Linked DNA regions of Homo sapiens: region 2 is linked to region 1. Evidence: fine-mapped QTL for protein levels in blood plasma. Region 1 holds a variant in brackets. A gene starts in the other region. All regions are shown on their reverse strands. Region 1 has its middle 71 kb from the start of LINC02403. Region 2 holds the start of HYAL1 (hyaluronidase 1).

The links. PIP is the posterior inclusion probability: the model's chance that the variant is causal. Protein levels are from antibody-based Olink assays in UK Biobank. Linkage for the fine-mapping came from a reference panel and not from the study's own genotypes, which makes the PIPs less certain.
Region 2: HYAL1 starts here. The variant in region 1 is fine-mapped to the plasma level of the HYAL1 protein (UK Biobank, PIP 0.99).

The regions. Positions count from the first base shown.
Region 1 is chr12:58,157,217-58,160,128 of GRCh38, reverse strand. No RefSeq gene overlaps it. Among named protein-coding and RNA genes, the nearest start is that of LINC02403, 71 kb to the right of the region's middle. The variant G/A (reference allele first, on the strand shown) is at 1,600.
Region 2 is chr3:50,302,890-50,305,735 of GRCh38, reverse strand. HYAL1 (hyaluronidase 1) reads left to right here and starts at 2,162. Exons shown (of 4, transcript NM_033159.4): 1 at 2,162-2,270; 2 at 2,756-2,846. The coding sequence starts at 2,780. RefSeq lists enhancers at 1,757-1,926, 1,744-2,678.

The DNA.
Region 1 (2,912 bases):
TGTAACAAAGTACCACAGACTACGTGGCTTAAACCACAGAAGTTATCTCACAGCTCTGGAGGCTACAAGTCCGAAATGAGGTTGCCAGTATGGTCAGGTTTTGGTGAGAGCTCTCTTCCTGGCTTGCACATGGCTGCCTTCACACTGTTCTCAGCTAGTGGAGAGTGCTGTGATCTCTCTTCCTCTTCTTTTAAGCATCCTTGGCTTTCAAAAAATACTGATGGACAGACCCTGCACCTTTGCATATTAAAGCTGCCTAACTTCTATACCCCATAGAAAACCAAGGCAGAACTCAGAGCAGCCAGCTGTTCTGTGTGAGGCAGCCTCCCGGCTGTGGACCCTGAAATGTGGCTCCAGTTTCTGACTTGAACTCCATTCCCCATATCTTTCTGTGTTAGTCCATTTTCACACTGCTTATAAAGACATACTTGAGACTGGGTAATTTATAAAGAAAAAGAGGTTTAATGGACGCATGTGGCCAATTGCACATGGCATGGGAGGCCTCACAATCATGGCAGAAGGCAAAAGCACATCTTATGTGGCGGCAGGCAAGAGAAAATGAGAGCCAAGTGAAAGAGGAAACCCCTTATAAAACCATCAGATCTTGTGAGACTTATTCACTACCATGAGAATAGTATGGGGAAAACTGCCCCATGATTCAATTATCTTCCACTGGGTCCCTCCCACAACATGTGGGAATTATGGGAGCTACAATTCAAGATGAGATTTGGGTGGGGACACAACCAAACCATATCACTCTCCTCCTGGGAGACTAAACAGGGCCTGTGTGGCTATCCCCTGCATCCACCCACATCTCTGTCCTCGCACAGTCACACCCCTCAACTTATACAAGGACTTCTCAGATGCACTCAGCACTGCCACAGCCCCTGCTTATGTCCCGGGCTCTCTCTGGGGATCCAAGCCTATGCTTTCCACAAGTTCGATCCCTCCTACCCATCTGACCTAGACCTCTCACCTGTCATCATCTAACAAGCAAGCATACATTAAGCCTAAACAGAATCACTCTGTCCTTCTCTTCTTTAGGTCTTACTTTCTAACCCTCTGCTTCTGTGATTCCTTCAAAGTGATTCTTTTCTTGGAAAATGAGAATGCCAAAGCTACTTAAAACCTCAAATCAGGCCCAGGCCAGCATTTACTAAAGCCAAACGTGAACCTTCCCTATGACCTGGCAATTGCATCCCTGAGTATTTACCCAAGAGAAATGAGTACATATGTCCACCAAAAGATACACAAAAGAATGTTCATAACCATGATAGCCAAAAGCTAGAAACAACCCAAAAGCTGATAGACTGGTAAATAGGTAAATAGATCATTGTATGTTCACACAAAGGAACACTAACAGCAATTTTTAAAAGAAAGCACTATTAATACATACAACAGCAGGATTGCATTCAGTGAACAAAGCCAGGCCCAAAAGCAAATGCACTGTATGATTACATTTGTATAAAGTTCAAGAGAAATGGAGTAAAAACTGCCTGGAAAGAGGCAAATTTCCTGTTTGCCTCTTGAGTAGGGTGCTGACCATGTGGGTATCTTCACATCGTCCAAGGAATTAATTCATCTTCATCCAAGGAATTA[G/A]TTCACCTTCATGGTGTGTCAAAAGACTTATTCTTTTGTATGTGTTCTTAAAAATCTGTACTCTGAACCATAGGTCCCAAAAGTCATTGATATGTCCTAGAATGTTAGAAATTAGTGGTCAACCTTATTTTACAGATTAAGAATGTGAGACTTAGAGAAGTTTGTTAGCTTGCCCAAGGTTAAATGGTTAATTATGGGCAAAACTGGGTATAGGAATCAGCTCTCCTGAGTCCCACTCTGATGCTTTTTCTTTTATGTCATTCTGTCACAACAAATGTATGATAAAATAATATTTTATCTTCTCAGAAATGGAGGGAAATATTCAAGAAAGACAAAGTGAGAAAAACTGGGAGCTCAGTTAAACCAGTGGATAATTTCCCACTCTCTAGTGACAGGTGAACTCTTTCAACTCAGGACAGTACACTGAATAGATTTTCAATCCCACATATTAAATGGAAGTGAAACATTGATGTTCTTCCAAAAAAGAGAGTAATTTTTTTCTTCTCAAAATGGCCACAATAATATCTTTTCAATTAAAGGTAGAATCCACTCAACTGGCCCCCTGCTAAAGAGCAAATTGATTTAATAAAGACAGGAAAATATCAGAATAATCATAGATGTCAAGTGATAAAAGTAAAAAATTAATGGATTACTATGTTGAGAGAAGAAAAGGTCTACTTAGGAGCTACATGTAACTTAGTCTTCAGGTTTGGTGACAAGGCTAATGAAGAAAGTCCATGTTTTAAAACACTCCTCAGAGACTCCAACTGCTGGCCAAGATTAGATAGCAGAGACCAGATTTACCTTCCCACTTAAAATAACTCCAAAAATTGACAAGAATGTGGAATTAAATTTTTTAAGACATGGGACATAAGGCAACAAAGGACACTGGTCACTGAAAGAAGACATTGAGATGAAACATATGATTGCTCCAACTCACTGCCTGAAAGAGTTTCCAGGCCCCAGCACTGGGATGGGGAATCTGAACAGAGCCTAGCAGACTCCCTTAAATAAGCAGACAGAGCTAGACATGTGGGAAGACTGAGGCAGCTGGAGTTTGAGGGACAGAGCATTGGAAGGGAGAGTGATGCAGAGAGACATAATTCCAGATATCTGCAATTGGTCCCCCCCTAGTACTCAGCTGAGTACTGATCATTGTATGTGTGTGAAGAAACTGCCTGGGTTGCCAGGGAAAGATCACCTGAAAGGATTAAAGGTAACTGTGTCTGGAACTTACACATGGTGGGATTGGTGCCTATTTTTACCAGCCAGACAGAAAAACCTTATGATTCTCAGGGCACTGGGTAACACAG
Region 2 (2,846 bases), not on the chromosome of region 1:
GGTGAAACCCTGTCTCTACTAAACATATAAAAATTAGCTGGGTGTGGTGGCACGCGCCTGTAGTCCCAGCTACTCTGGAGGCTGAGGCAGGAGAATCGCTTGAACCCGGGAGCCAGAGGTTGCAGTGAGCCGAGATCATGCCATTGCACTCCAGCCTGGGCGACAGAGTGAGACTTCATCTAAAAAAAAATTAGGCCAGGCGCGGTGGCTCACACCTGTAATCCCAGCACTTTGGGAAGCTGAGGCAGGCAGATCACAAGGTCAGGAGATCGAGACCATCCTGGCTAACACGGTGAAACCTCGTCTCTACTAAAAATACAAAAAATTAGCCAGGCGTGGTGGCGGGCGCCTGTAGTCCCAGCTACTCGGGAGGCTGAGGCAGGAGAATGGCATGAACCCGGGGGGCAGAGCTTGCAGTGAGCTGAGATCGCACCACTGCACTCCAGCCTGGGCGACAGAGCGAGACTCCGTCTCAAAAAATAAAAATAAAAAAAAAACAGAAGTACATAAGCTCTGTCCAGAGAGGTGGAGACAGCTCAAAGCACGGCCCCCCACTGGGGGCTTCCAGGTCACAGGCAGGTGACAGACAGATGGTTGCATTCTTTTGAGTTTCTGGTAGTCTTTCCAAAAGAGGCAATGGAGGCAATCATAATATGCATCTATGTCTGTAAGCAAAAGGATGACTTGAATAGAATGGGAGGCAGATTTGTCCTGAGCGGTTCCCAGCTTGAAGGGGCCCAAGATATTTTCCTTTCACATATTGAACAAGTGAAACCACAAATGAATGAACAAGCATGTGCTCACTGACAGCTCATATGCATGGTCACACAAACACAGGATCTCATGCTCACAAGACAGCAGGGCTCACACACACCCAGTCCCAGGCACTGGGTTCCACACTCACACCTACTTGCCACTGGAATTTGTGCAGAGGCTCAGATGGTCACTAAATGGGGCTTCACAAAGACACAGTCACTAACCCAGCACATATACAAAGGGTGATGACACAGCCCTGACTTCATGAACACAGTGCCTTTCAGAAACAGGTCCCTACAACAGGGATGACTTATCCACTAAGCACAATAGACCCAAGGCCTAGGGCCACAGTACTTTCAGGGGCCCACAAAATGTTTTTTTAATCAGAAGAAGAATATAAATGTAAATATATTAATAATTAATATATAATAGTGTAACCCAGACATGACCTCCTGGGCTCAAGCACTCCTCCTGCCTCAGTGTCCCAAGTAGCTGGGACTACAGGTACATACCACCATGCCCAGCTAATTTTTAATTTTTTTGTAGAGATGGGGTCTTGCTACATTGCCTAGGCTGGTCTCGAACTCCTGGGCTCAAGCAATTCTCCCACCTCAGCCTCCCAAAGTGCTAAGACTATAGCCATATATATATATATATATATATATATATATATATATATATATTTTTTTTTTTTTTTTTTTTTTTGAGATGGAGTCGCTCTCTGTCACCCAGGCTGGAGTATAGTAGCACAGTGGAGCAGTCTTGGCTCACTGCAACCTCTGCCTCCCGGGTTCAAGGGATTGTCCTGCCTCAGCCTCCCGAGTAGCTGGGATTACAGGCGCCTGCCACCACGCCCGGCTAATTTTTTGTATTTTTAGTAGAGAAGGGGTTTCACCATGTTAGCCGGGATGGTCTCGATCTCCTGACCTCGTGATCTGCCACCTCGGCTTCCCAAAGTGCTAGGATTATAGGCGTGAGCCTCCGCACCTGGCATGCCTGGCCATATTTTAAAATATTTTTTTTAAGGAGGAAAAGATCCACGAAAGTAAAGTGCCTAGGGCCCATCAATGTCAGATGCAGCCACGTGGACAAAGAACACTCCCTGAGCACAAGACACGAAAGAACCCGGTCTCCAGTGTCACAAACAGGCCTGCCCAGCAGGGTCTGCCCCTGCCCACCTCCTCCAGCCTAGGTAAGGCCACAAAGCCCTGCCCTAGTGCTGACAGCGTGGGAGGGGCCACTGTTGGCCCAGCCCCACCCCCAACCAAGATCCCTTTGCCAGGGATTCAGAGGTAGCCCTGATGCCTGGCTGGCCTGGCCTCCTAATCCAAGGCCCGCCCCTTGGCCCGCCCCTGGCCTGGGTGGGGTGACCCCCTACAAAAGCTCAGAATTTCCAGCAGCGGCTCCTTCCTCCAGGAGTCTCTGGTGCAGCTGGGGTGGAATCTGGCCAGGCCCTGCTTAGGCCCCCATCCTGGGGTCAGGAAATTTGGAGGATAAGGCCCTTCAGCCCCAAGGTCAGCAGGGACGAGCGGGCAGACTGGCGGGTGTACAGGAGGGCTGGGTTGACCTGTCCTTGGTCACTGAGGCCATTGGATCTTCCTCCAGTGGCTGCCAGGATTTCTGGTGGAAGAGACAGGAAGGCCTCCCCCCCTTGGTCGGGTCAGCCTGGGGGCTGAGGGCCTGGCTGTCAGCCACTCTTCCCAGAACATATGTCATGGCCTCAGTGGCTCATGGGGAAGCAGGGGTGGGCGAGCTTAGGCTAGAGCAAGTCCTGTGGGAGATGGCAGAGGCCTGGTCTGAGAGGCAACTCGGATGTGCCCTCCAGTGGCCATGCTCCCCTCCATGCGTCTCCCCTGCCCTCCTGGAGCCCTGCAGGTCAATGTTTAACAGAAACCAGAGCAGCGGTGGATTAATGCGCAAGGGCTCAGCCCCCCAGCCCTGAGCAGTGGGGGAATCGGAGACTTTGCAACCTGTTCTCAGCTCTGCCTCCCCTGGCCAGGTTGTCCTCGACCAGTCCCGTGCCATGGCAGCCCACCTGCTTCCCATCTGCGCCCTCTTCCTGACCTTACTCGATATGGCCCAAGGCTTTA